4 linked regions of the Homo sapiens genome follow. The protein of the gene in region 1 interacts with the protein of each later gene in a pairwise test. Each region holds a gene or a part of one and is shown in the gene's direction. Other genes may lie near its edges. The genes, in order: TCAP, VIM, CDCA4 and TTC19.

Evidence for each region.
Region 2: the proteins of TCAP (region 1) and VIM interact in binary tests that used the Homo sapiens proteins (3 or more experiments, as listed by UniProt).
Region 3: the proteins of TCAP (region 1) and CDCA4 interact in binary tests that used the Homo sapiens proteins (3 or more experiments, as listed by UniProt).
Region 4: the proteins of TCAP (region 1) and TTC19 interact in binary tests that used the Homo sapiens proteins (3 or more experiments, as listed by UniProt).

What each region holds. Positions count from the first base shown.
Region 1 is NC_000017.11:39,661,478-39,668,023, forward strand, and holds TCAP (telethonin), read left to right. Parts: upstream 1-3,871; 5' UTR 3,872-3,882; coding exon 3,883-3,992; intron 3,993-4,238; coding exon 4,239-4,632; 3' UTR 4,633-5,077; downstream 5,078-6,546. Other genes in the region: STARD3 (stAR-related lipid transfer protein 3), read left to right, coding at 774-890, 1,327-1,576. UniProt on the Homo sapiens protein: Muscle assembly regulating factor. Mediates the antiparallel assembly of titin (TTN) molecules at the sarcomeric Z-disk.
Region 2 is NC_000010.11:17,230,528-17,238,349, forward strand, and holds the end of VIM (vimentin), read left to right. Parts: intron 1-122; coding exon 123-183; intron 184-3,059; coding exon 3,060-3,155; intron 3,156-3,242; coding exon 3,243-3,404; intron 3,405-4,165; coding exon 4,166-4,291; intron 4,292-4,641; coding exon 4,642-4,862; intron 4,863-5,318; coding exon 5,319-5,362; intron 5,363-5,766; coding exon 5,767-5,852; intron 5,853-6,702; coding exon 6,703-6,744; 3' UTR 6,745-7,066; downstream 7,067-7,822. UniProt on the Homo sapiens protein: Vimentins are class-III intermediate filaments found in various non-epithelial cells, especially mesenchymal cells. Vimentin is attached to the nucleus, endoplasmic reticulum, and mitochondria, either laterally or terminally.
Region 3 is NC_000014.9:105,017,877-105,025,764, reverse strand, and holds the start of CDCA4 (cell division cycle-associated protein 4), read left to right. Parts: upstream 1-4,681; 5' UTR 4,682-4,766; intron 4,767-7,888. UniProt on the Homo sapiens protein: May participate in the regulation of cell proliferation through the E2F/RB pathway. May be involved in molecular regulation of hematopoietic stem cells and progenitor cell lineage commitment and differentiation.
Region 4 is NC_000017.11:16,002,102-16,010,070, forward strand, and holds part of TTC19 (tetratricopeptide repeat protein 19, mitochondrial isoform 1 precursor), read left to right. Parts: intron 1-691; coding exon 692-730; intron 731-1,729; coding exon 1,730-1,786; intron 1,787-2,099; coding exon 2,100-2,161; intron 2,162-4,372; coding exon 4,373-4,467; intron 4,468-6,876; coding exon of another isoform or gene 6,877-6,905; exon of another isoform or gene 6,906-6,963; intron 6,964-7,969. UniProt on the Homo sapiens protein: Required for the preservation of the structural and functional integrity of mitochondrial respiratory complex III by allowing the physiological turnover of the Rieske protein UQCRFS1.

The sequences.
Region 1 (6,546 bases):
TCCTCACCCTGTCCTCACTCCGTCATCTTTCTCTGGAGTGGCTCAGGAGTTCCCCCAAAGATAAAGGGATTATGGCCTTCCCGCATCTGTGCCTGGGCTTCTGGAGTCTTCCCTTTTGTCCAGTCAGGCTGTGGTGCTGCGGGTGGCCCCCTCCCATAGACCCCACTCTTCCCCATCCCCTCCTGGGTTCCAGCAGGAGCACTGTTCTTTGAATAGGATGCCAGGCTCTGCTTTGGGCACTGGACAGACTTGCTGGGTGCAGGGAAGCTCACTTCCTCTCTGGATGCCAACTTCCTTATCTGCAGAATGGGCTTAGGTGTGCTCAGTGGAGCTGAGGGAGAATGAAATGGTGATGGGATGTGAACCGTGCCTCCCAGGCTTAGCCTTCTCCTGAGCAGGTGTCCCCTCCTGAAGGGGAAGGGGTAAGAAGCGCCAGCCCAGCCTACTCTGCCATAGCAGGGCTGACCTAGAATCTCTGGACAGAGTGTATGAGGGCTGGGAAGGTGGTGAGCTCTCTGTCCCTGGGGGTGTGCAAGCACCAACAGGCCGTTGTAGGAGGATTCAAGCATCACAGAGTGGGTGGGGGTGGAGGGCCGATTCTGCAGCCCATGGGACACCTGTGCTAAGCCTTGTTCAGATAGGGTAGCTCTGCCTTTCTGCTTCCAGCCCAGTCCCAGCTGGGCCAAGAATGGAGTGTGAGTGGTAGGGGCTGCGGGGGGGTGTCAGGGCCTCACTCTGTTCCAAAGTCCCCCCAATGATGCCTCTTTCCATAGGGGAGAGAATGGCCCTGGGGGCTTCATCGTGCTCAAGTCGGCCAGTAACCCCCGTGTTTGCACCTTTGTCTGGATTCTTAATACAGATCTCAAGGTGGGGTGCTGGGGGGCTGCCAGGTGGGTTCTGTGGAGTGGAGGGGACCCTGCTGCTGACTTGGTTGCTGCATGACTTTGGGGGCTCTCTGCCATGCCTGGGCCTCCCCTTTGTCAGCCACCTTTCTTACTTGAAAATTTGGGTCAGGGTCCAGATGGTCTCTTAGCCCTGGGTTGCTGTAGGGCATGTGCCCCCCCTTCTTACCTCTGAGTCCTGAGGCCCTGAGGAAGGGTGGCTGGTGGCCAGCCCGGCCCCACCCTGGTCTGTTTGTGTTGCTGGTGCCAAGAGCCAGGCCCAGCATGTTCTTCCTGCCAGGGGTGAGTGGGAGAGGGCGACCCAGGCTGGATTCCAGAGCTGCACCTGCATTCTGGCCCAGAGCCCCCCTGCTGGTGCCAGCTGCAAGGGGAGACCCTGCTGAGGGCAGGCCATCAAGTGTGACTTCTGCCTGCCTTCCCCCAGGGCCGCCTGCCCCGGTACCTCATCCACCAGAGCCTCGCGGCCACCATGTTTGAATTTGCCTTTCACCTGCGACAGCGCATCAGCGAGCTGGGGGCCCGGGCGTGACTGTGCCCCCTCCCACCCTGCGGGCCAGGGTCCTGTCGCCACCACTTCCAGAGCCAGAAAGGGTGCCAGTTGGGCTCGCACTGCCCACATGGGACCTGGCCCCAGGCTGTCACCCTCCACCGAGCCACGCAGTGCCTGGAGTTGACTGACTGAGCAGGCTGTGGGGTGGAGCACTGGACTCCGGGGCCCCACTGGCTGGAGGAAGTGGGGTCTGGCCTGTTGATGTTTACATGGCGCCCTGCCTCCTGGAGGACCAGATTGCTCTGCCCCACCTTGCCAGGGCAGGGTCTGGGCTGGGCACCTGACTTGGCTGGGGAGGACCAGGGCCCTGGGCAGGGCAGGGCAGCCTGTCACCCGTGTGAAGATGAAGGGGCTCTTCATCTGCCTGCGCTCTCGTCGGTTTTTTTAGGATTATTGAAAGAGTCTGGGACCCTTGTTGGGGAGTGGGTGGCAGGTGGGGGTGGGCTGCTGGCCATGAATCTCTGCCTCTCCCAGGCTGTCCCCCTCCTCCCAGGGCCTCCTGGGGGACCTTTGTATTAAGCCAATTAAAAACATGAATTTAAAAAAAAAAAAAAATTCCAGCCCCTCCCACTGCCTTGCCTCTTGAGGGAAGAGAAAGGCAGGCAGCAGCTTGGATGAAGAGGGAAGACCCCTCACACAGCCTCTCCTGGGCTCACAGGAGGGCGGAGCCCGGGGAGCCAGTTCCTGAAACATGCCCCCCATTCCCCCCCCGCCCACCCCCCACTCCCCGCTTTCCTGACCAGTTCAACTGAGCAGATGACTGGTCAGAAAAAAATGCCCCGCCCCCTGCCAGGCTTCAGCGGGGCAAGTTTAAAGTCTCTAGTCCAGGAATGGAGGTGGGGGTATGGGCACCTGGCAGTGCCCACAGCAAGCCTTGACTGTGTGGCCTGGAGATGGGGCCTGAGCTTCAGGGTCACTGAGGCACCTCTGGGATCCAGGCCACCTGGAGCCCCGGACCTCCCAGACTCCACTCACCCATTCCCTCTCCCCGCACGGCACTCACACCAGGGGCGGCCTGGAGCCCGGATCGCAGGGCGGGGCCAGGCCACTGCCTGCCTTCCTCCTCCCTCCCGGCTGGCCTGCCCCCTTGCCTGCCTGCATGCAGGCTTCCAGCAGAGCCAGCTTCTTCAGAGCCAGGTGGATCCTGTTTCGGTCCTGCCTAGGTGTGTGACCCTGGGCGAATCTACCTCTCTCAGCTTCTGCTTCCCACTTTATGAAAATGGGACTGATGTCACAGGGTTGTTATGAGATTAAAAGATATGAAGAACCGGGGACAGTGCTCAGTAATCAATAGTCTGCAGTTCTGCACCCACGTGCTCCTGGGTACTCTGCCGTCCCCACAGGGTCCTCAGCTCAGCCCCTGTCACTGCCTCTCCTGCCACCCTTTGTCCACTCGGCAGTGTTCTCACTCCTCATCCCCCCACACCCACCACCTGTCTGCCAGCCTCTTGCACCATGAGTTGCTACTCCTGGGGTGCTGGACTGTCCCCACAGCCATCTGTCTCCCCTGCTCCCCATGAAGAAGAGCCAGTCCCCTCCCAGGTAGCACATCAGAGCGGGCAGGCTCCAGAGCTCTTCTGGTCCTCTTGCAGTGGCCAGAAAGTGGGGAAAGGGGCCCAGAGAGGGGCAGGGACTGACCCATGGTCACACAGCCTATTTATGGCTGATCTGGAGCCAGGCCTTCTGACTATCACCCATCAGAGCCCCTGGATTCCCATTTCACCCAACACAGGTGTTGGGGTAGAACTGGGGGCCCTCCACCCCTACTAGCCTGACTGTCTCCTGAGACCTGTCTCCTAAGACCACTTACCTGACCACTGGCCATGGGGAAGGAAAACACCTGGCCAAGGCTCATGCCCCAGGTTCCCAGGCATGAAGTTGACTGTCTCCGCCCCTGCTGGTGTGGTGAGGGTGACTGGGGACTAGGCACTAGGCCTTTGGTGCAGGCGCCTGAGGACGTGGTTGCACTCTCCCTTCTGGGGATATGCCCTTGAGCCCAGGCAGAGGAGAGCACAGCCAGGGCAGGACCTGGCAGCCCTGGTACAGAGCCCAGAGGGGGCATCAGTTCCTGCTGGTCCTGCTCTGTTTACAGACAAGCTGCTGTCCTCCCTGCAAAGGGGAGTGGGTGGGGCAGAGGGCAAGTGCCAGGGGGGCACAAGGCTGGGCATGTGGCTGGCATGAGACGGTGTCTGAGTAATGTCAGGCACCTGGAGGCATTGACCCCAGGACCTTGGACCCCAGACCTCTGACCGGGGGGCAGCCAGCGTCCAGGTACCCCAACCCCTGCCCTGGGTCCGGCGTCCCCCCATTAGTGAGTCTTGGCTCTACTTATAGCATCTGACACCAGAGGGGCCGAAAATAGCCCCTGGAGAAGGGGGAGGAGGGGGCTATTTAAAGGGCCTGGGAGGGGAGAGAGAATGAGGAGTGATCATGGCTACCTCAGAGCTGAGCTGCGAGGTGTCGGAGGAGAACTGTGAGCGCCGGGAGGCCTTCTGGGCAGAATGGAAGGATCTGACACTGTCCACACGGCCCGAGGAGGGGTGAGTGTGGGTCTGCTAGAGCCCTGCCTCTGCTCCCCCAGAGCACCCTCACTGAGCCATGAGGCCAGAGCATGAAGCCCTGGAGAAATTTCTGGGGGTGGGGGCAGGAAGAATGCCCCATGGGGAGAGCAAAGGGGAACCACCCTTCCTGCCCCCAGGTCCCAGCAGCCCAGGGGAGCCCCCCACCCAGCCTGTGCCCAGAGAGCAACAGCTCCCAGGAGCTCACTGCCCCTCCCCTCTCCCCAGCTGCTCCCTGCATGAGGAGGACACCCAGAGACATGAGACCTACCACCAGCAGGGGCAGTGCCAGGTGCTGGTGCAGCGCTCGCCCTGGCTGATGATGCGGATGGGCATCCTCGGCCGTGGGCTGCAGGAGTACCAGCTGCCCTACCAGCGGGTACTGCCGCTGCCCATCTTCACCCCTGCCAAGATGGGCGCCACCAAGGAGGAGCGTGAGGACACCCCCATCCAGCTTCAGGAGCTGCTGGCGCTGGAGACAGCCCTGGGTGGCCAGTGTGTGGACCGCCAGGAGGTGGCTGAGATCACAAAGCAGCTGCCCCCTGTGGTGCCTGTCAGCAAGCCCGGTGCACTTCGTCGCTCCCTGTCCCGCTCCATGTCCCAGGAAGCACAGAGAGGCTGAGAGGGACTGTGACTTGGGCTCCGCTGTGCCCGCCCTGGGCTGGGCCCTTCCTGGCTAGGACTGTGGAGGGGAGCTGCTGGCCATGGCTGCTTTGTAGTTTGCCCAGAGTTGGGGGCTAGGGGAGGGGGGAGCCAGAGGCCAGGATGCCTGAGCCCCCTGAGTTCCCAAAGGGAGGGTGGCAGAGACAGTGGGCACTAAGGGTGGAGAGTTGGGGGCCAGCACAGCTGAGGACCCTCAGCCCCAGGAGAAGGGACAAAAGGTACTGGTGAGGGCAAGAGGTGCCTGGGAGGAGTGGCCCTGATCCAGGAAAATGTGAGGGGAATCTGGAACGCTCTAGGCAGAAGAAGCTGGGAGGGAGGGGGAGGTGAAAAGGGCAGAGGCAAGGATGGTGGGGCCCCCAGCACCCTCTGTTAGTGCCGCAATAAATGCTCAATCATGTGCCAGAGTTGCATCTCTTTCCTTGTGGTTGGGGGGGCTGGCCCATGGGTGTCCCCTCAATGCCCACTTCTGGGACCAGGCTCCGCATCTGAGCTAAATATGGCAGAGCTAATGGGTACACCCCATACTTGGGGTGGGGGTGGGGGCAGGACAGAGCTGTAAACAGGGTGCTGTCTCCAGTCTCCTTCCCGTACCCTGACCGCTGCCCAGTCCTGGCTTCTGTGTCCAGCCCCCTGGCACTGGGTGGTAACCAGCAAGCCAGCTGGCATCCGCATCCAGGGTTTGTTTCAATGATGTCTCGTGGAGAATATGGAGGGGCTGGTGCCAGGACTGTCCTTGGCTTTGCCTCGGGGTGTGAACGGGGTCAGTGACCTCTAAAACTAACCTGCCTCTCAGTTCTGAATCCAGACAGAATCAATCCTCAGCTGTGTCTCGCTCCACACCCCCTGCCCTGGAAGCCAGGGAAGGTTGGAGGTGCTAGGGGGTCAGGCTCCCCTCTGTGACCCCTGCAGCTGTTGTGGTGACTCATGTCCCAACCTAGCTGCCTCTCCCAAGGAGACTTTCCCCTGGGGACAAGGGGGAGGGAATGGCATGGAGGAGGCCCACATCAAGCGGGGCCAGGAACCCACGGTGGCAGGAGCTGGGCTGGTGACCTACCCAGGGCAGAAGGGCCCGGGACTCATCCAGAGGGGAAGGAAGGGGTCTTCAGGAAGACCACGGAGATGCCACAGGCAGAATTGGCTTCCCATCTGGGAGATAGGTGGGGAGACCCTGGCATTTTGACAGCCAGAACCTGGGGTGCTGAGCAGAATCTTCATGCCTGGCCTGGCCGCTCCTTCGGAGGGAAGCTGGAGGGTGGGCTGCGAGAGGAGTGGGGTCAGAGCCCCTACATCCGCAGGACCCCAAATCGGCTGGGCCCCAAGGCCCGGACTGCGCTCCCCGGTGGCCCCGGCGGCCCTCCGCGAATGCGTCCTGCCCCTCCCCTGCCCAAGCCCTCTGCCCTCACCCGGGTCCGGCGCCGCCCCCGAAGTGGCGGGAACAACCCGAACCCGAACCTTCTGTCCTCGGGAGCCCCCAGATAAGCGGCTGGGAACCCGCGGGGCCCGCAGGGGAGGCCCGGCTGTTCCGCCCGCTAAGTGCATTAGCACAGCTCACCTCCCCTATCGCGCCTGCCATCGGACGGGCAGTGCCGCGCCCTGCTCTGGGGCCCCCGGAGCGACCACAGCGGAGGCCGGAACGGACTGTCCTTTCTGGGGCGGGGTGGGGAGGGGGTGTCGCTGGAGGGCCCGGTGGCATAGCAACGGACGAGAGAGGCCTGGAGGAGGGGCGGGGAGGGGGAGTTGTGTGGCAGTTCTAAGGGAAGGGTGGGTGCTGGGACGGGTGTCCGGGAGGGAGGGGAGCCTGGCGGGGTCTGGGGCCTCGTCGCGGAGGGCGCTGCGAGGGGGAAACTGGGGAAAGGGCCTAATTCCCCAGTCT
Region 2 (7,822 bases), on another chromosome or scaffold:
TAGTTGCGCGGAGGTGGCGCAGCTGCTCTGGAGGCGCAGAGCGAATACGTGGTGTTTGGGTGTGGCCGCCCCGCCCCTGGCGGTTTCCTCGTTCCCCTTTGGTTAATGCGCAACTGTTTCAGATTGCAGGAGGAGATGCTTCAGAGAGAGGAAGCCGAAAACACCCTGCAATCTTTCAGACAGGTTTGTAGACTCTCTTCCCACTCGCAGCCGCCTGACCCCACCCAACACAACCCACGAGCAATTCTAAAAGTTGCTTAACTCACGTCTAAAAAGTGCAAAACTTCAGGGCTGCGCGTAAAGCCCTCTAGTGGCGGGAAGACCACAGGTTGGAGCTTCTCATGATTAGAAAAATATTAATAAAACCCCTTGAGCGATTTTTTTTTTTTTTTTGAGACGGAGTCTTACTCTGTCGCCCAGGCTGGAGTGCAGTGGCGAGATCTTGGCTCACTGCATCCTCCGCCTCCCGGGTTCAAGCGATCCTTGAATGATTTCTAAGCAGTTCCTTGGGACATAAAGAAAAATCTTTTAACTTTTTACTTTGTTTCCCAAATGTTGCACAGTTTTGCAACACATTGACCTTCTGGTTTCGAACGGTTACAATTTTAGATTGTGGTTTGCCAAAGTCAAGTTGCTTAATTTTTACAAGGCCACAAAAAGCGCAATTATGCCCTGCAGTTTAAAATGGAAAACGTGTTGGAAGATAAGAAAACTTAGTTTCCAACTGGAATGGAGCCAGCAAGTTTCTTTTCTTCTTTGCAAATTCTATTGTGTCATTAAAGTTCGATGGAAGTATCACTATGCACAACTATTTTGTGATCTAATAAGGGTGAAAAGGAGCCATCTGTCCCCTTGGCTAAGGGGTATTAATGGTTTCTATGGGCTTCACTATGGAATGTAGATACAGACATTCTGGCAAATGTGGTGGCTCTGGACAGAAATAATAGGAGTCTTTGTATTCCCAGGGAAGCTTTGCAACAGGCTACATTCTTACTGAATATGTAATGATGTAAGCACGGTTCTAATTGGACACAAGTATTTGCTAACATCCGTTATCTAATATCTGGCCCAGACTTGAGAAGTAGGTAATGTAAAAAGTTTTTAAAGCTACAAGCATACCTCACATTTTAAAAGTCCTTTCTTGATTGGGTTCTTGTGTTCTTTAGCACTCTTGCCATAAAAAATAATAACAGTAATAAACCCAAGGCTGAAAAACTGAATTTTAACTAAAGGGTTTTTGTGCGTGTTTTTTTTTTTTTTCACCAAAATTAGATGGACTTACAGAATTTTTAACTTAAAATTGGAATCCAAAAGCCAGAAGATCCCCATTATAGTTTATAGTTGTATTCCCTGGAATATTTACTGGGATTAACTGCAAAGCACTCTCAGATGAATAGTGTAGTATAACATTTTGAAACTGAAATACATTTACCAAATTAATTTAACCACAGCAATGTGTGTGGTTCATTTTAGTCCTTGAGCATTTTTGATTATCATACCTGTCATGTTTTCTGCAGTGTAGTGAGTTAACATAAAACAACATCAATACAAAAGATCCTCTGTTTCGAGATTAAGCAAAATTCCTCATTCTCTTCAATGTGATAGAATACCACATTGATCTTTCTTTGGAGGTTAGTAAAATATCTTTTATGTATTTTTCAGGGCTTAACAAGTAAAAATCAATGTTTTCATCAAGTCTGATCTTTTTGTCACCCACTCTTCATTCATTTTTCCACTAAGGTGATAGAAAAGTCTCAACAGTTTAAGACCGTAAGGCTATGAACTCCAAATATAATTGCTGACAAGATAAGCAATCCTCACGCATCCTTTTGAGAGGAAATAAAATCTTAGTTGCAAGATTACATATTCTGATTTGGAATGCTGAGCTTTTTAAATGGAAATATAGAAGGACGGCTGAATCAGCAAAAATCCTTTATGTAGTTTCATTCTTTGCAAGCTTGACCAGTCATTCTGAAACAGGCTAACTGAACTGATACAGTGGCAAGTGAAAAAGACATGCCTTTACAGGATGAGTCAAAGGAGTTTTAGAAGAAAAATCCACCAGAGAAAGCCAAGCAAATACAGTTCAGAGTTACATTTCTTTTCCATTTTTTCCTGAACTGAATCTTTGGCATGCATATCCTGAATTGGGTTATTGAATATAAATCTAGCCTTGTACAATGGATGCCAGATGACTACATATTTGCTTTGGAGCCTAAGGATAAGTTTCAAAAGATTTGAGTGGAGAAGAAAAGCTAAAACTCTTGAAGCACAAGTTTCTGTTCTCCATGTACTCAAGTGTACATGAAGTTGTGAAAATTTGTCCACCTCTATCATCATGTTATTCCATGAAATTACAAAACAAATCTTAAAAATGTTGTGGCATAGATTTTCTAGATTTAAAAAGTAATTAAATTAAATGAATTACTTTATTTTTTGAGACAGAGTGTCACTCTGTTGCCCAGGCTGGAGTGCAGTGGCACTATGTTGGCTCACTGCAACCTCTGCCTCCTGGGTTGAAGAAATTCTCCTGCCTCAACCTCCCAAGTAGCTGGGACTACAGGCATGTGCCACCACACCCAGCTAATTTTTGTATTTTTGGTAGAGACGGGGTTTCGCCATGTTGGCTAGGCTGGTCTCGAACTCCTGACCTCAAGTGATCCACCCGTCTCAGCCTCCCAAAGTGCTGGGATTACAGGCATAAGCCACCATGACCAGCCTTAAAAAGTAATTTTAAAATATCACTGGTAAAATGTGGATTCAGTCATGATTGAGTGCAGTTTACCATGTGTGTGGACATTTATTTATTTTAAAATTGTCTGATCACCACCTTGAGTAAAACACAAGCAGTCACAATTAAAATATATTAGTGAGCAGGAGAAAGCACAGCATATTATAGCACTGAATGATTTATAAACCTATTCCAGGGTCATAAAATGTGTCAACGGCTTTTCTATAGTAAGGAGACTAGGTTCAGATGGTTAATCTAAGACAAATAAATGAGATAAGCCATACACTTTTACATCCTCCATGTCCTGTCTTTTCTCTGTTCAAAATAGGATGTTGACAATGCGTCTCTGGCACGTCTTGACCTTGAACGCAAAGTGGAATCTTTGCAAGAAGAGATTGCCTTTTTGAAGAAACTCCACGAAGAGGTTAGTGGAGTGACTTTCGGGGAATGAATGAGGGTAAGGCAGCCCCCACGGTTGGCAGAGCTGACCGTCTGTCTGTTCTTTTTGCAGGAAATCCAGGAGCTGCAGGCTCAGATTCAGGAACAGCATGTCCAAATCGATGTGGATGTTTCCAAGCCTGACCTCACGGCTGCCCTGCGTGACGTACGTCAGCAATATGAAAGTGTGGCTGCCAAGAACCTGCAGGAGGCAGAAGAATGGTACAAATCCAAGGTAGGAAACAAATCAGTGCGGCTTCAACCAAAGAAAAGCATTGTGTTCTCAAAACCCCATACCTGTGTGTGATTCCTAAATATCCTCTAGCTCCAATGCAAAGCTGGCTTTGACTTCTTGCTCATATTGTGTTTGCCACCACAGCCTCCCCACCACTCACATCACCTCCTTTATTTATTTATTTATTTTCTTATTTATTTATGAGACAGAGTCTTGCTCTACTGCCCAGGCTGGAGTGCAGTGGCAACATCTTGGCACACTGCAACCTCCGCCTCCCAGGTTCAAGTGATTCTCCTGCCTCAGCCCCCTAAGAGCTGGAACCACAGGCAAGCACCACCATGCCCGGCTAATTTTTGTATTTTTAGTAGAGATGGGGTTTCACCATGTTGACCAGGCTTCTCTCAAACTCCTGACCTCAGGTGATCCACCCTCCTCAGCCTCCCAAAATGTTGGGATTACAGGCATGCGCCACCACGCCTGGCCACATCACCTCCTTCAGAATAGCAGACTCTCTTCCCCCTAACCTTGCCTCCAAGTAAACCCCAATGCCATACCTTTGACCTCCACTGTGTTGAAATGAGCACTGTAGAGTGAACTCTGAAAATACTAATGTCAGTACTCCACTGCTCTTTCCCTGGCTTTCAAAACAGAAATTTAAACCTATACTGGAAGACATTCAGTGAGAAATATGATTTTTTTTTTCTAAGAGAGTCAAAAGACTTGAATGTGAGCAATCTACATTTCTGTTTTCTTCCCAACAGTTTGCTGACCTCTCTGAGGCTGCCAACCGGAACAATGACGCCCTGCGCCAGGCAAAGCAGGAGTCCACTGAGTACCGGAGACAGGTGCAGTCCCTCACCTGTGAAGTGGATGCCCTTAAAGGAACCGTGAGTACCAACCCTGCAGTAAAAGAGGGAAAATAATGACCCATTCTGCTGACTAGGCTCATGATGATACCTGAACAAAATGTTGAGTGAGTAAAAATGTATATCATAATGCAAAGAAAATGAGTTATCAAGACAGACTCAAAAGGGACTTCATGGAACTCTTGAAGGTTTTAGCTTGCCTATATCATTGCTTCTAATATGAAGGACTTGGTACTCGCATTCTCCACCTAAAATTAGAGTGGTCGCCATTTGCCGCTAATGGAAATTATTGCAGAAGGTCTGTAAATGGTTCTGGGAACAGCTGGGTTTTTCTGAGAAATAACACCAGACATCTTTCTCACCCCCTGCAGAATGAGTCCCTGGAACGCCAGATGCGTGAAATGGAAGAGAACTTTGCCGTTGAAGCTGCTAACTACCAAGACACTATTGGCCGCCTGCAGGATGAGATTCAGAATATGAAGGAGGAAATGGCTCGTCACCTTCGTGAATACCAAGACCTGCTCAATGTTAAGATGGCCCTTGACATTGAGATTGCCACCTACAGGAAGCTGCTGGAAGGCGAGGAGAGCAGGTAGGGAACTCAGACTTGGATGCGTGAACTAATGGTGACCATTTGTTAGGCCCTGTGCCACTGGGCTCTAAGCAGTGTCACATTTAATCTTTAGAAAGTTTCTTTGAGGTAACTGCTTTCCACTTTTTGTAGAGGAGGAATTTGAATTGAGAGAGAGTAAGTGACTTGCTGAAAAAGGGTTAATCAACAGCAGAGCTGGGATTTGAACCCATAACTCTGTCAAAGCCTCCACTCCTAACTCCTGTTCATGCTCCTGTGGAGAAAATGCTTGTAGTAACATATTTTAAATGTACTAACAAGACCAGTCATGGGAAAATGTTTCTGAGACAAATCTCTAGTTTATGATTTAAAACAGTACGTTTTCTTACGTGACGAAAACAAAAAGTGTGTTAATTTGTTCCCAGTGGTTGAAGTTATTTGCCAACAATTTTACTGTTTCTCTTCATCTGTTTATAGGATTTCTCTGCCTCTTCCAAACTTTTCCTCCCTGAACCTGAGGGGTAAGCATTTTATTTCCCTTTAGGAAAAACGTCAGCTGCTTGTAACCACTGTGTTTATGTCAAAGCATTCATTTTTTTTAGGATATCTGAAAAAATGCCATATAAGAGAAAACTCTATAAAACATCTATAATTTTCGAACCCAAGTACACTCTTGCATTCTATGCTTTAAGTTAAATGCAAACTCCTTTTTCCTTCTTCCTGCTGCAAGTACTATCTCATCCTGATGCTCAAGAGTGTCAGGGCCTGGGTTTCCAAACAGAGACTACCCTAAAATTATTTGGCGAGTAGTACTTTACACAATTGCCTCTCCCCCACAAATCATAATTGTTTCAGTAAAATGGTTACTTGGTTTTTCCAAGAAAAAACTCGTTTTTACTCATTTTTGGCCTGTTTGTTTATTTAGAAACTAATCTGGATTCACTCCCTCTGGTTGATACCCACTCAAAAAGGACACTTCTGATTAAGACGGTTGAAACTAGAGATGGACAGGTTGGTATCTTTTAAGGAAAAAATAGGGTAATCTCAGACAGGAGTTGATATATTTTAAAATCAGTGAATCTGAATCTCAGATACAGCTGGCTAATTTGAGAGGTTCAGGTTTCATTCATGCCTACTAAAAAAAGAATAGGCTTCTTCTTCCAGCAGTACACACAGCCAACTAATTATTTGGCTCCTGGATGTGAAGTTGAGATAGCAGTCTTCCTGTGCTCCAGAATTAGTGATTTGCTTTGGTGCTTAATTTGAAGTGGGAGTAAGCTTCCTTAAACCACTTCCTAAAGCAGCTACATGAAACAGCTTCACTAGACTACCTCAATATGAGGAATGTTTTGATCCTGGACATATGGTGTCTTCCTACCTCCATACTTTATAGATTCCTAAACCCATCTATATAATACAAGCATGTGCCATACGATCATTTAGTTTCTTATTACCTCCCTATGCCAGGAAAGAAATAGTTGCAATTTATTGTAGTCATCATGAAATCTTCCCTTGCACATAAATTTAAAATGTACCTGCTGCACATTTTAATATGTCTTAATTGCTTTTAAACTTGGCTGTATTGTGTACAACTATTATACCATCTTTTATAAACACAGTTTTTTAAGAAATTTCTTTTTGTAAGTTACAACATTCCACTGGATCCTTATATTGCCTGTAGTGGAAGAGGGTCTTGTGTGTCTGCCCCTTCTAGTTTTCACTCATGCAGAAGCAACATAACCTTCTGATTTGCACAATAAATTACATATATTTAGCAGGATTTTTATTTGCCGTGATATATAGGATAATTTAGTCTTTGGCATGTGGCATTATATTTATTTTGGTTTTTTTTTTTAAACAGGTTATCAACGAAACTTCTCAGCATCACGATGACCTTGAATAAAAATTGCACACACTCAGTGCAGCAATATATTACCAGCAAGAATAAAAAAGAAATCCATATCTTAAAGAAACAGCTTTCAAGTGCCTTTCTGCAGTTTTTCAGGAGCGCAAGATAGATTTGGAATAGGAATAAGCTCTAGTTCTTAACAACCGACACTCCTACAAGATTTAGAAAAAAGTTTACAACATAATCTAGTTTACAGAAAAATCTTGTGCTAGAATACTTTTTAAAAGGTATTTTGAATACCATTAAAACTGCTTTTTTTTTTCCAGCAAGTATCCAACCAACTTGGTTCTGCTTCAATAAATCTTTGGAAAAACTCTTTTGTTGTGTTATTTATTGGATAATATCTAAACAATTCTCTACTTGGTCCTATTAGTTAATTTGTCATTACAATCATGTAAGTTGATAAATTCAGGTTATTTATGCTTGAGATGTAGTTCTTAATTTTGTCATTTTTGATAGACCTCACTTCTTTTTATTATTACTTAAAAACATTTACAAATAGGTGGTGTCGAATAAAATAACTTGTACCAAAATGAAGATAGGTCTCTCTAAAATGAGCTCAGGTCTGTGATTTTAATCATAACAAACAGACTTCCTAAAATTAAAAAATAAAAACTTTTTTTAGTACATATAGCATATGAGTAACACAAATTCCACTTTGGGAGTTAAAGCATAGGAAGTTGCCAAGATATAGGGGCTTATCTTCCGCTAGCAAGATGCAGAGAAATGGAAAAAGTTCACCAAGTTTTTCTTTTATTTAAGACAGGATCTCACTTTGTCACTCAAGCTGGAGTAAAGTGACTCAATCATAGTTCACTGCAGCCAACAACTCCTAGGCTCAGGCAATCCTCCCACCTCAGCCTCCTCAGTAGCTAGGAGTACTCAAAACAAATAAACGAATGTCTAACTTTAGCCTAAAATGTGAGTTGTCTTCCCAAAACTAGCCACACACCTGGCTAATTTTTTTAATTTTTTGTAGAGATGGGGTCTGGAAGTGTTGTCCAGCCTAGTCTGGAACTCTTGTGCTCAAGTGATCCTCCCTCGGCCTCCTAAAAAGCTGGGATTACAGGCA
Region 3 (7,888 bases), on another chromosome or scaffold:
ACTAAGTATATATTTAAGTTTACTTACAGTATGTTCAAGTATGTGGTAAGAATTAGTAGACTACAGTAATGTTTGGTTAGGTGTGGTGGTGTGTGCCAGTAGCCCAAGCTACTTGGGAGGCTGAGGCGAGAGAATCACTTCAGCTGGGGGAGGTCAAGGCTGCAGTGAGCACCACTGCACTTCAGCCTGGGCCACAGAGCAAGACCTTGTCTCAAAACAATAACGATAATAGGCTGGGTGCAGTGGCTCAAGCCTGTAATCCCAGCACTTTGGGAGGCTAAGGCGGGCAGATCACTTGACGTCAGGAGTTCGAGACCAGCCTCGCCAACATGGTGAAACCTTGTCTCTACTAAAAATACAAAAATTAGCCAGGTATGGTGGTGGGCGCCTGTAATCCCAGCTACTAGGGAGGCTGAGGCAGGAGAATCGCTTGAACTCAGGAGGCAGAGGTTGCAGTGAGTTGAGAGCATCACACCATTGCACTCCAGCCTGGGCGACAGAGTGAGATTCTGTCTCAAAATAATAGTAACAATAATAATGTCCTCCAGGGAATTGTCTTCTCGTGTCCACACTGGCCCTAGGCTTGGCCACATGTGGTTTGGCCACCTGGACATTGGCACATATGAGCAGAGCAGAGGGAAGTATAAAAAGAGCCCCTGTATTGGTGCCTGCCTGGGCTGGCCTTCCGGAGGATGACAGAGCAGAGATGAGTCAGTCATCTCTGCCAAGACCCAAACACTTGAGTGAGCTCAGCTGATGCCTCATGAGACACAGGATGCTGTGACCCCAGCCGAAATGCCAACCGCAGAAATGCCAGCAAACAAAAGGCTGCCTTTTGAATCTACTAAGTTTGGGAAAGTGTGTCACACAGCAAAAGGTAACTGATATAGAGGTGGGTGTCCTCCTTAATACTTTTCTTTTTTCTTACTTTATCTATAGGGTAGCCTTCCACATGTATTTCTCTAGATTTTTATTTTATTTTTTATGTTTATTTATTTATTTTTTGAGACAGAGTCTCACTCTGTCGCCCAGGCTGGAATGCAGTGGTGCAATCTCAGCTCACTGCAACCTCCGCCTCCTGTGTTCCAGCAATTCTCCTGCCTCAGCCTCCCGAGTAGCGGGATTACGGGTACATGCCACCACGCCTGGCTAATTTTTGTATTTTTAGTAGAGACGGGGTTTCACCATGTTGGCCAGGCTGGTCTCGAACTCCTGAACTCAGGTAACCCGCCCACCTCAGCCTCCCAAAGTGCTGGGATTACAGGCATGAGCCACTGTGCCCGGCCATTTCTCTAGATTTTTAATAGCATTTTGTGAGGTTTCAAAAATATCCTGGGATTTTGCCTGGCAATAGAATAAATGTATATATTCATTTGGGAAGTAAATGAACTCTGGACTCAGGCCCAGTGACACATTTTCACCAGCAATACCACTATGACTCCACTAAGAGAACAACTGGAGTCTCCGCATGGCCTCTCCTGGCCGCTGCCCCATGCACCTCTTCTCTTGGTTAATTTTAATGAGCCTTTTCATGGTAATGAACCATAACCACGAGTACAATAGCTTCTAGGGAATTCTCTGAGTCCTTCTAATGAATTTCAAACTTGAGGGTGGTCTTGGGGCTGTCCCTAACTTTGTACTTGTATATTTAGTTTGCTAAAGATTATACCATGAAGGGGTGTTGAATTTTACTAGATGCTTCTACACTGAGATTTTCATACTTTTTTTCTCCTTCATTCTATTGTCATGAATCATGTTGACCTTGCAATGTGAAATCAACTGTACTCCAGTTCCTGGAGTACACCCAACTTGGTTGTGATGAGTTACCTTTTTTACATTATCATTGGATCTGATTTGCTAATATGTGGTTTGGAATTTTAAACAATGTTCATGAGAGAGAATACCATGTGTGTTTTCTCCCATCATGTCCCTTTCGAGTTTTAGTATCAAATTTGTTAGCCCTGTAGAACAAATTGGTAAGAAGAGTTCCCCTTTATCATTTGGAAGACTCTGTGTAAGACTGATGCTCTTTCTTCAATTTGAGTCTTTTTTTTAACGGATTCTAGTTCTCCTTGTCATCAATTTTCCTGAATACATTAGTTACTGAAAAATATGACTCCAATCTTGGTGTAACCATAGACTTCTATGTTTTTTCTGGTCCTATGTCCTAGCAAGCCTGTTAATATTTTATGACTACAGTTAACAGTAACTTACTGCATATTTTCTAATAGGTAGAGGAGAGGATTTTGAATGTTCCCAACACAAAAGAAATGATGTTTGAGGTGATGGATATGCTAACTACCTTGATGGATCATTATACTTTGTATATACATGTCAAAATATCACACCAAATCTCATCTTGAATTGTAGCTCCTATAATTCCCATGTCGTGGGAGGGACCCGGCAGGAGGTAACTGAATCATGGGGCAGGCTTTCCTGTTCTGTTCTCCGGATAGTGAATACATTTCCTGAGATCTGACGGTTTTATAAAGGGGAGCTCCCTGCACACGCTCTCTTGCCTGCCGCCGTGTAAGACGTCCCTTCGCTTTTCCTTTGTCTCCTGCCATGATTGCGAGTCCATTAAACCTCTTTTTCTTTATAAATTACCCAGTCTCGGGTATGTCTTTATTAGCAGCATGAGAATAGACTAATATGCTCTGGAAGATATTATCTTACTCCAGACATTATTTTAGATCTTTGCCAATTTGACCCGTGGCAAACAGCACTCCAGCATAGCTTTAATTTCCACTGCTCTTGTTCTGATTGGGGCTGAGCATCTATTCGCCTGTATAGGAGCATTTGTATTTTCTTTGCTCTGAACTGTGTTTATATTCTACGCCCACTTTTCTTTTCTTTTTTTAAGAGATGGGGTCTCACTCTGCTGCCCAGGCTGGAGTGCAGTGGTGCAATCATAGTTCACTGCAGCCTCCAACTCCTGGGCTCAAGGGATTCTCTCACCCCAGCCTCCTGAGTAGCTGGGATTACAGGTGGGTGCCACTATTTCCAAACCACTTTTCTTTGGTGATCTAGATTTCATTTGCATTTGCAGAATATCTGTATATTAAGGAATTTAACCTTTATGTGGGATACAGCCAGGAAAAACTTTTTTCCCCATTTGTCTTTTCACTTTGACATGCATAAACTTTAAATTCTCAGGTAGTCACCTTTATCAAGTCCCATTTTCTTTTACCTGGGCAGTAACCTAATGGGATTTTCTACTTCCAGCCTTCCTGCCACCTCCTCCAAATCTATTACCAACAGTGATTCTTGGTGGTTGTGGTGCCTCATGCCTGTAATCCCAGAACTTTGGGAGGCCAAGGTAGGAGGATCACTTAAGGCCAGGAGTTGGAGACCAGCCTGTGTAACAAGACAATACCCTGTCTCTACAAAATTACCAAAAAAAAAAAAAAAGTTAGCTTGGTGTAGTGGCACACTTCTGTAGTCCCAGCTACTTGGGAGGCTGAGGCGTGAGAATCACTCGAGCACAAGAGTTCGAGGATACAGTGAGCCATAATCACGCCACTGTTGTCCAGCCTGGGCGAAAGAGACCCCCTTTTTTTTTTTTTTAAATAAGAACAGTGATTCTTTTCAAGCACAATTCAGATTCCAGTTCCTTCTCTGCTGACCATGCCAGTAGTCTCCATCCCACTCCCAGAATAGCCCAAAAGTCCCTCCACCCCTCACACTTAAAACTTTCCCACGAGATCACAGGGTTCTTTCTCACTGCACTGAGACGTGCTCCTGCCTCCTGCCCCTGCCTCGGGCTTTGCCCCAGCCATTCCTCTCCTGAATTCTCGTCCACTCTTCCTTTTGGTGCTTTAAGACGCTCCTTATCCTAGAGACCTATGTGAGCAGCGCCCCCACGTCACTCCCAGGTTTCCCGACAGCATTTCAGCATTTACCACCGACCTTGGCGCATCCGCACCTGCGGATTGATCTGAGGATTCCCCCCCAACTTCCAGCACTTGGCTCTCAGCTGCAGCCACGCCTGCCGGGCCTGCTGCAGGCGCTCAGGGTATTACTTAAGTCAATGATTGCAGGTTCTCGCATCCTATTTAAAACCTTTTCCACTAAGAGATTTAAAACACGTGTCCCCTGCTTTGAACTTTCACGTTACATTTCTTACGTGTAAACCTAGGAAGCCTTTGGAGATAACCCCGGTCTCTGGAGAGGCTTGGATAGACCTCGGAGCCCAGACCGCCCGGGAATTGCCGTGCCCGGCTCCTCCCGACCCCGGCACGGATGCCTCGGCGGAGAAGTTGAGCCAGGCAGAAGCGAGAGAGTCCAAACCTCTGTTTGCCCCGCCACGCCCGCCCGAGGGCCCCACGTGGGCCCCAGGCGCAGGCGCGTTCAGTTCAGGGCCAGACGCGCGGAGACCTGGGAGCTGGCGGGGCGGGGCCGGACTGGGCGCGGGGAGACCTGGGAGCCGGCGGGGCGTGGGCGTGGCGGGGCCGGGCGCAGGGGCGGGGGCGGGGCAACCGAGGGCGCGCGCGAGCCCCAACGGCCGTCGCCGCAGCGCGGGAAGACGCGCCACAGATGCCCCGCCCGCGTGGGTTTGAACAAGAGGCCCCGCCCCCGGCCCGCGAGTGGCCAATCAGCGGGCGTAGCGCGCGGAGAGCGCAGCGTCGACCCTTTGTGGACGCCGAGTGGCGGTCGCTCGCCCCGCCCCGCGCCGTCGGGCGCTCCTTCCTCAGCGGCGGGAAGCTGGCGGCAGCGGCGGTGGCGGTGGCTGAGCAGAGGACCCGGCGGGCGGCCTCGCGGGTCAGGTGAGCGGGCCCGGCGGACCGCTAGGGCGTCTACGGCGGCGTGCACTTTTGTGCTGCAGGGCGCGGAGGAGCCTGGGGGCGGTGCGCGGAGTCTGTGGCTCCTGGCGCTGGGTCCGGGGCGGAGGCGGCGCCCGGGACCACCGCTGGGGCTGCCGCGGCGCCCTCGCCGCCCTCCTGGGCGCTGGTTCCCCCGCGGGGTGGCCGCTGCTGAGGGGGCCCGGGGAACAGAGGGGCCCGGGCCGCCGTCTGCGTTCCTTGCGGAGCGCGGAGCTGGGGCTTTGCCGAGGCCTGCGGGCGGCCCCACGCGGGAGCCGCTTCACGAGGGCCCGGCTGGGGTACGCAGCGGCGTTTCCCGTACCTCGGCTCTAGTTGCAGCGGAGGGAACGCCAGGCGCGCCGCAGCCCCCTCTGTCGGAGCCCGGCCGCGGAGAGGGCCGCGGATGTGGGAGGAGGCCCAGACCCCGGGCGGGTCGGCCAGCGCCGTCTTCCCTGGGCTCCTCCGGCGGTGCGAGGTGGGACTAGGGAAAGTCCCCGAGACACTTGCAGAAGTCAGACGCAAGCCTCCCTCCGCGTCTTCAGACGCTTCTCGCCCCGCAAACAGGATCGTCGTGGCAAAGGCTCCGACAGCTTGCTGGAATAGAGGGTCTCCGCTGCCTCGCTTCTCCTGTGGCCTTCGTGTGGGACGCACGGGACGGCGGGACCCAGATAACCGTTCTCTCAAAGCGAGCCACAGAAAAACATTGCCTGTTCACAAAACTTACGTTTTATCAACTTTCTACGTACAACCACTCTATTTTCAAGTGTCACCGTGTTTTATAATTAGGGTGGAAATCCAGAATACAAAGTGAGTTACACCCCTTTTCTAGGAAGAGTAGTAGGCTGTATCTTGGAAAAGGGGCTAGGAAGTTTCCCTCAACTTGCCACTGGAACATGTTTTCAGGGAAAAGAAGGAGTGTGTTTCGTTCCAAGTAACAAAAGTACCTGCAATTGGCTGGGCGCGGTAGCTCACACCTCCCAGCACTTTGAGAGGAGGCCTAGGCGGGTGGATCTCCTGAGGTCCCGAGTTCGAGACTAGCTGGCCAACGTGGTGAAACCCCGTCTGTACTAAAAATACAAAAATTAGCTGGGCGTGATGGCGCATGCCTGTAATCATAATCCTAGCTATGTGGGAGGCTGAGGCAGGAGAATCGCTTGAACCAGAAAGGCAGAGGTCTCAGCCGAGATCGTGCCATTGCACTCCAGCCTGGGCGACAGAGCGAGACTCCGTCTCAAAAAACAAAAAAAACCAAATACCTGAAATTAACATAACAGTAATTGTTCATGAACAGCCTCCAGGAGACTTGTAGTGGAAGGTGGAGCTCCCACTCAGTACTCAAGACTGCAGACCTTGCTCCTCTTCTCCCTGTTTTTCCGATAAAGTATTTCAAAGCTTATCTGATGTGTGAGGAATGGAAATTGTTGATGATTTGCTTAAAAACCCGAAACTTTGAAGTGGCTGCAAGTCCAGCTGTGAAGGTGACAGGTTAGGTCAGAGTTGAGTCTGTCCCCAACCGTCCCAGCCCTACTGATCAGAATCTGGGAATCTGCGTTTTCAGCCAGCCTCGTGGTATTGCTCAGCCACGAAGGTGTGGCCACTGCTGCTGTAGTGAAGGACCAGTCCCCGAGCTGTACTCTGCTTGCCTGAGCAGCACTGCGGGGCTGCTCCCTGCTGGCCTCTGCCTCGGTGGGCCTAGGTTGCTCTGTCCCTAGTGGCCTGTTGGCTGTTCCACCTGCCATGTCGGACATGTCCTCAGTCCGTCTGGCCCTCTTCGTTTTTCTCTGTCTGGTCGGTGCTTGGTTTAGAAGCCTGAGGGCAGTGCTGGGAGTTGACTGAGGGCTTGGCTGTCCCGGTAACAACCTGTGGAGTTGGTGGGATTTTAGGCATTTAACTAGATGTGTAGAAAGAGCTTCAAAACTGAGCAGGGGGCCAGGCATGGTGGCTCACGCCTGTAATCCAGCACTTTGGGAGGCCGAGATGGGCGGATTGCCTGAGTTCAGGAGTTCGAGATCAGCCTGGCCAACATGGTGAAACCCCGTCTCTACAAAAAATACAAAAATTAGCCGGGTGTGGTGGCGCGTGCCTGTAGTCCTAGCTACTCGGGAGGCTGAGGTAGGAGAATCGCTTGAACCTGGGAGGTGGAGGTTGCAGTGAGCTGAGATTGCATCACTGCACTCCAGCCTGGGGGACAGAATGAGACTCTGTCTTAAAAAAAAAAAAAAAAATTGAGCAGGGAGCTAGGCTCCACAGCCCCACCGGTATGGTATAGGGCCCTTTCTCATTCCATATTAGAAGGAGTTAAGCAGCCTCAGGCAGAAGTCACACAGGAGGCCCTCAGGGAGCTGGGCCCAGCCCAGGCATCCCTCGGGGCTGGTTAAGACCATGCTCTTGCTGACTTTGTCCCAAACACAGATATAACCCAATTCAGGGTGATCCTCACAGGCCAGCTTCTCCGGGCCCAACCTTATCCTCTTCACTCCTGAACACATGTTCTGGGTGACAGCTCTTTGGGGTCACGTGACTGTAAAAAGCACCTGTGAGCTTTACTCTTTTTTGTATTAATAGTAATAAACTTGTCAGCATTTTAAAATATTGGGTACAACACAGAATTAACAGCTGCTGGAGATTTGGAACATTGGAGAGGAATGATTTGAAGTGACTGAACAGGGATATTCTCCTGGTACCAGAATGGGATCTGTGCATGGGATGAGATGCAGTGGAGGATGATGGGGATTATCTCTCGTCCCTTGTAGAACTTGTGTAACCCAGGCACATCTATGCAGGTCCCTGGGTTACACAAGTCCTACAAGGGGCGAGAGAGAATCTCCATCATCCTGGAGGATTCTTTCTGGCCCCTTGTAGCATTTCCCACCCTGATGGTGGCTACCCTTCTGTGTTTTCACAACTTAGATTAGCTTTGCCTGTCCTGAAGGTTCAGATCAATAGAATCCTACGGTACATATTTTTGTGTGTGTCTTGCTGCTTTTATTCAGCATAATGTTTTGAAATTTATCCGTGTTGCATAAATCATTGAGGTATGTTGCTGAGTTGCATTCCTTTGTCAGAATACACCAGATCGTATACAT
Region 4 (7,969 bases), about 24 Mb from region 1:
ATATTCCTGACTTTCACGATGTTCTAAAACTCCTTTTCTTTTTACTGAGTTTTCTTTTGGCTTCAGTTTCATTTTTTGTTTTGTTTTGTTTTTTTGAGATGGAGCCTCACTCTGTTGCCCAGGCTGCAGTGCAGTGGCACAATCTTGGCTCACTGCAGCCTCCGCCTCATGAGTTCAGACGATTCTTTTGCCTCACCCTCCCGAGTAGCTGGATTACAGGCATGCATCACTATGCCTGGCTAAATTTTGTATTGTAGTAGAGACGAGGTTTCACCATATTGGCCAGGCTGGTCTCGAACTCCTGATCTCAGGTGATCCACCTGCCTTGGCCTCCCAAAGTGCTGAGATTTCAGGCATGAGCCACCACGCCCGGCCACAGCTTCAGTTTTTTTACCCTTGGGGTGACATAAGACCTCTCAATTCCAGACCAAAAAAAACCAGTATCATTAGCATGTTTTTTTAATGATGAGTGGACCTAGATTTGGTTTGTTAACAACAAAGTATGTGCAAGTATTTAATTCTCACATGATTGCTGTCCTGTGCTTCTTCTTGCAGATTAATTGGTGATGTGCTTTTCATTTTCAACTATTTTTTAAATTTTGAGGGTGAAAGCAAAAGGGAATTTTAAAGTTTTGAAATAAGTAGGAACACAGTATTCTAAACTGAAAAACAATTTGTAATTTGCTTTCAGATGGCCAACTTAGCATTTATACGGGGTCAGCTTGAAAATGTAAGTAAATTGCTTTGTAATATCTTGAATTTATGAAGGAGTAGCTTCAAGGGAACTGTAATAGTAAGAGTACAGGCTAAGCTGCTATAACAAAGAGACCCTAGAATATAGTGACTCAAACAAGATAAAAGTGTATTTCTCTTTATTGTGTTAGTCCAGAGATAGGCTAAAGACTGAAGGCAGACAGACATAGGCACCTTTGCTCTCTGATCCAGAAGTCCAGGTTTCTTCTAAGATAAGCCCTCCTCTGCCTAGGTGAGCTGACTCACCTCCAGTCTGCAGGAAGGGGGAGAAGATGGACTGTGAGCAGCTTCCTTATAAAACATGATTAGAAGTTCACGTTCTTTCTGCCTGCATCCCTTGGCCTAAATTTTATCATATGACCATATCTAACTTAAGGGTGTCCAATCTGCTAAAATTGACTGAATTTTTTTTTTAAGATAAGGTCTTGCTCTGTTGCCCAGGTTGGAGTGCGGTGGCTTAATCATGGCTGACTGCAACCTCGACCTGCCAGGCTCAGTTGATCCTCTCACCTCAGCCTCCTGAGTAGCTGGGATTCCAGGCGTGTGCCACAACACTTGGCTAATTTTCTTATTTATTTATTTATTTATTTATTTATTTATTGTAGAGACGGGATTTCACCATATTTCCCAGGCTAAATCGAGGGGACTCTGTAATCAAAAAGATGGAGAAGAGAATGACTATTAGGAGACAGTTTGTAGTCTCTGCCACAGTGGGTTTGGATAAGAACTTAATCTCTGAGGTTGTTTTCTACTCATCAGAGAGTAGTTTAAGGTACACAGAGGATGTTGAGGGTCCTGATATTTTGATCTGTTTTCGCTTCAAAAGGGTACTTTTCTGTGTGTGAGTGTGCGTGTGTGTGGGTATATGGGTTTTACAAGGAATGTTGCATCAGACTGGCACTTAGAATCCAGGGTCATATATATATATATAAAATGGGGCCCAATTAAAAGAAAAATCTTTTCCTTATGCTTTTAGGCTGAACAACTTTTTAAAGCAACAATGAGTTACCTCCTTGGAGGGGGCATGAAGCAGGTAAGGACATTGCCTAGTATTGGCCCCTCACTGAAGCAGTTTTCAAAACAGTCTTGTCTCCTGAAAACTCCTCCTAGCCCCACCACATGCTTTGGTCAGGAAAGGTGGAGTTTCCCTTCTGAGATCTCTATACAAATTGCCATTCTTTCACTAAATGCAACAGCATGCTTGCCAAGGAATTCACAGTTGGCTCATCACTCTAAAAGAATAAAGACTGTGGCTTTGAGGCCACCGTCAGTCTGGAAGTTGATCTGAAATATGCCATGAAAAAATTTACTTGTTATGAGTTCCCTTCATTCTCTTTCTCTCACAGGAGGACAATGCAATAATTGAAATTTCCCTAAAGCTGGCCAGTATCTATGCTGCGCAGAACAGGTAAGTACAGCAGCCAGGGAGTAGGACTGTGGGCAGGAAACTTTGACTCTGGGATGTTACATAATATTCATTGTCTACTGGTCATCTGGGTCTCCCAGAAATTGGGTGTCACACTCAAAGTGTTCCATCCCTCATCTTTGAAATTGTCAGTCTTTTTCCAGTTTGCCCCTACTGTTTCCATCAGCCTGCCTAGTGGGGCACACAACATCTCTGGCTGCCCTGTGACAAAACTAACTAAGTTTTCTGTTGCTGCTTGAAGTGGGAAGGGAAGTTAGAGTTAGAACTTTAGTTTAACTTTTCCTAGAAGAGGAAAGAGCAGTGTGAAAGCTGCTGGGGATAATATATTAATACTCTGAAGAAGCCATTTTGCTGGTATAAATAGAGTTCAAAGATGAAGCATCTAGGTTGTAAGCAGAGAACTCCTCTAGAGAGTTGTATTTGGGATGAATTTAGGGAGAGACCTAAGACTAGCTTCCCTTCAGGTTTTAGTGGTGCAGAAGTTGGTGCGAGAGGTTTGGAGTGACATGGAGCCTGATGCTGTAGAAAGGGTGCTCACTGAGGCCAGGCCCTGGCACTGTTCCCTACTGTCCTACTCACCAGCTCCTTTGTTCTCATCAGGACCTGCATAGTCTCCTTGCATTTTGATTGGACACTAGATAGGCTAGAGCTTCCTGGAGCCTTTGACTTCAAGTCTTTTGAGGAGCTTTGAGCTTGGCCCATGCCAGGGAACACTGCAGCTTGGTCAATCTTTCTTGGAGTTGTAACAAACATGCCTAGTTCTTGATTGGGTATGAATCCCTAGGGTAAGAAGAAGCCCAGAGCCTAATAAACATTGTTGAGTAAGACAAATTCATAGTCTTCTAGAGGTGAAAGCTAGTAACAATTAGCCTCTGAGTTACATGGTACTCTGTACTTTTCATTTTGTTTTATTAAGAGAAGCATGAGACTAGAAAAGACATGGCCAGATCTGAGGCTTCGAAAGGCTGATATAGGTTATGAGGGGAATTGTTTGTAGACCTCTTGCTCCGACTGGGAGCGTCTTCTGGGCAGTGTCCACTTGCCCTGTGTTATGGCTAGAGAGGGCCCTCTTGCCAAGTTTTGAGCGTAGGGAAGGAAGGGGATGCTTCTGTTCTTCTGAGAACAGAGCAGAACAGTAGGGTCATAAGTTCTCCCCTGGCAAAGCACTAGAGAACAGGTGAGCTTTTTAGTGCCACTTCTGTAAGAAACTAGAGCCAAAACTGAAGAAAAGAACCAAAGCTGAGCTCCTAAATGGAGAAGGGATTTCTGTCACATTTCCTCTGCATCTCTGTAAAAAGCAGCAGTCAGTCGGCCTGCTTGGGTTGACTCAACCCTCTCCAGTTGATTGAGGGTCCAGGGCTACAGAGTTGGGTTAAATGACTTCTATTGCCATAGCTAGGAGTCCCATTTCTGCAAAAGAAACTTTTATCAGAGACTTATAGCTTGAAAGAAATATAAAATGACTAAAGCTCCTCAGAAGCTGTATGAGGTCAACAGTTGGAATCCTCACTGTAGGGCGGCCTGAACTGTTTAGGGTAGTATTACTTTGAACAGGGGTAAGGCTTTCACACATGGAGAAGTTGATTCACTGGAGGCCATCTGTTAGTGGGAGATGATGAATACTGCTGGCTATGTCAGTTATTAAAATTAGGGCAGCATTCCTAGCTTTTTGTGTCCTAAGTTATATTAAATGGATGACTTAAAAAAACTGCTTTGAGAAATGGCAGATTTGACACTACTTAGACTTTAAGCAAAGTTCCCTCTTCCCATTTTACACTTCCTTTACTGATAATGTTTAAACTGAGCTGGAAAAATGAAGATAAAAAGAATTTGTGAAAAGGTAAATGGGCCGGGCGCAGTGGCTCACGCCTGTAATCCCACCACTTTGGGAGGCCGAGGTGGGTGGATCACTTAAGGTCAGGAGTTCCAGACCAGCCTGGCCAACATGGTGAAACTCTGTCTTTACCAAAAATACAAAAATTAGCTGGGCATAGTGGCGGGCACCTGTAATCCCAGCTATTCGAGAGGCTAAGGCAGGAGAATCGCTTGAACCCCGGAGGTGGAGGTTGCTCTGAGCCGAGGTCACGCCATTGCACTCCAGCCTGGGCAACAAGAGCGAAACTCCATCTCAACAGAAGGAAGAAAAAAAAAAGAAGAAAAGGTAAATGGCTGATTATTGATTTTGCTTTACAGACAGGAATTTGCTGTTGCTGGCTATGAATTCTGCATTTCAACTCTAGAGGAAAAAATTGAAAGAGAAAAGGAATTAGCAGAAGACATTATGTCAGGTAGGAAACCCATTATCTGGGCATTGCCTTTTCTCCACAAAAGGCTTTACTTTACACTTTTGAGAAATGGAAAGAGATCTAAATTGGGAAGAGGGAAAGTTACCTATTTTGCAAAATAAGTGTCTGTCTTTAAGGTATCAGCAGAAGTTTTGGAATAAGATGTTTTATTTAAAATATTTGACTGCTGTTTTGGTGGTGGTTTTTTTTTTAACCCCCTTGGTAACATGGTCATAATTTATTTGTTAACTTTTAGTTACATATAACTTAAGGAAAATTGGGGAGCAGAAGGAGAAGGTGTTTCTCGTATCTCTTAGTTCAGCTACCAATCAAAATGCTTATTACGTTTTAGCCCTAGATATACAGCAAATTAAGAAAGAAGAGAAAAAAAGCTCATGTTTTTACAATCCATCCTCACTCATTCTGGAGGCTAGGAATAGAACTGGATGAGCAGGAAGCTCTCTAGCTCTCCACCATTTTGGGTTTCTTAATTTGGGTTGAAGTATTGAGAATTTTCAGATTTGACATTTATTCAATACCTACTCTATACCAAGAGCTACCGAGATGGTAGGGATACAGCAGTCAACTCTTCTGTACCTAGTGGTCTTCTAACTCTCTCTTGAACATAGAGTAGTCCCCCGTTATCCATGGGGAATATGTTCCAAGACCCCCAGCAGATGCCTGAAACGACTTCTAATACACTGTGTTTTTTTCTTATATATATGTACCTATGATAAAGTTTAATTTATAAGTTAGGCACAGTAAGAGATTAACAACAATAACTTTTAATAGAACAATTATAACTATATACTGTTAACAGTGTCACAGACAGGAGATTCATTCTTATTGTAGATCTTATCAACCTCAGCATACAGTTTTTTGTTTTTTGTTTTTTGTTTTCTTACTAAGTTGAGAACTTTCACCTTTTCATTAAAAGGAAGCACTTTATGACTTCTCTTTGTCATATTCAAATTGCCAGTATCACCACTCTCACACTTTGGGGCCATTATGTAAAATATGGATTGCTTGAGCACAAGTACTGCAACATTGTGGGTTGATCTGATAACTGAGACTGCTGCTAAGTGACTGAGGCCAGCTGCCGTATACAACTTGGGTACACTGGACAAAGATGATTCATGTCCTGGGCAGGATGGAGTGTGACAGTGTAAGATTTCTTCATGCCACCCAGAATGGCATGCAATTTAAAAACTTACGGATTATTTCTTGAATTTTTCATTTAATATTTTTCGGACTCTGGTTGACTGCAGATAACTGAAACCCCAGAAAATGAAACTGTGGAGTAGGAGGGATCACTGTACACCAATTTTTTTGTTTTCATCACTCCACTGAAGCTACCTTTATCAAAGTCACCAAATCCAATGGTTACTTCTCAATCCTTAACTTACTCATCAGCAGCTTTAACTTAGGGGATCACTGTCTCCTACTGAAAATACTTTCACTTGGCTTCTGGGATGCCTCACTGGTCTCTCTAGTGAGGTGAATAGACTTCCCTACCTCTTAATGTTGGCACGCCTTAGGGCTGTTTTCAGCCCTATTCTCTTTTCTCTCTGCCCCAACACCTAGGAGATATCTTTTAGTTCCATAGTTTTAAATATTAGATTTATACCTTCAGCCCCAACTTGCCCCCAAATGGCAGACTTATAATTATGATTGCCCACCCGACATCTTGACTTGAAGTCTAATGGTCATCTCATACTTAACATGTCCAAAATAGGTCTCAGTTTTGCCGCTCACAACTTGTTTCGTCACCAGTCAGCCCCAGATTTGTAAATGGCACACTACTCATTTAGTTGCTTTGGCCAAGAACCTAAGAATTGTCCATGATTTCTTCCTCATTCCTCATATCTAATCCATCAGCAAGTTATACTGGATCAGCCATCAAAATATATCCATACTGACCATGTCTCATCCCATTACCCTACTGCTTTGGTCCAGGCCATCACTGTTTCAAGACCTCAGTACCTTTGTATCACCTTTAGAATAAATTTAGAATCCCTGCATGGACCTGTAAGGCGCTTATGACCTGGGCCCACCCACCTCTTCCATGCCATCTGCTGCTCTCCCCTTGCTCGTTCCAGTCTCACCACACTGGTCTTATTCTGGCACATTCCAAGCTTAGTGCCACCTCAAGGCCTCTTTGCTTGATATTCCCCCTACCTAGACTGTTCTCTCTTACCTTTCTCTGGCCAACTCCCGTACTTCACTCAGGTCTCTGCTCAAATAGCACTTCCTCAGAGTGCTCCCTTCACTAAAACTATCATCTCTTCCCACCTTACTATTGCTCTACTCCTCTTTCCTTTACTTTTCTTCATCACACTTAAAAGTAGAGGTGTGTGTGTTGTGTGCTTGTGTTTCTCCACTAAAAGTATGTTTTTGTTTAAAAATTTTTAGTCTTTGTCTTCCATATCAAAGAAGGATAGAGACTTCATCCATTATACTCAGTGCTAAATCCTCGGTGCCTAGAACAGTGCCTGGCACATAATAGAGGCTCAATAATTACTGAATGAAAGAACAAAAGACCCAAGAAAGACCAGCAAATAAATCCAGTTTCAGTGCAGTGTGGAAGTGCTTTGAGGAAATCCACAAGAGGTGTAAAAACAAGTCTAGCTGTCAAGTAAGTCACTTCTGAACTATTTACACCTTTGCTGTCTTTCATTTATAGTGTTGACTATGGTTTCTTAGGAGTGTAAAGCTATATTTTCTGATTCAAAAAATAATACCAGTAAACACTGAAGAAAGTTTAGAAAAGCACTAAGTAAAAATCATCTGTAATCATACTATTAAGAAAGAGCTACTGTTTTATTTATTACTACGGCTTTTCGGGTTACATTTTAAGAAATAAATTTGGGATGATACTGTATATCCTACTTTGTAACCTGAGTTTTAACAATTTAGTAACATATTATGAAAACACTTTTTTTTTCCAGGCAAAGGAATTCTTGTTAGATAGAGCAAGCTAATTTCTATTATAAATATTATTTTTACATTTTACTAGTTGCACAGTATAGAAAATGTGTTACATGATTCTTCATCTTATTTTTTCTAGAAAAGGAATTCCTACCTATTCAGTTTTGCACAAAGCAAATCCATTATCAAATTTACGTGCTTTTTATTGACACAACTATCTCTATTCTAGGATAACATTACTTAATTACATAAAATTACATTACTTAATTACATAAAACCTTGCTCTAGGATAATTATTTTGTTACCTATGTTGTAGACATATATGTACTTACTGAGGAAATGCCCATAAAAAATTAAGTGAAAACTTTGGTTACAAAACAGTATAGTTAGTATGTAGACTAAAAATAGGAATGGAACAAAGGCTGAATGATAGATATCAAAATACAGGCAGTGATTCTCTTTGGTTGGTAGGTTTATAGGGAATTTATATTTTATTTGTGTTTCTCTGAGTATTCTATAATTTTGTACAAATTTATATTTTTCTTTTTAATTTCCAATGTTATCTGTTAGTATAAAA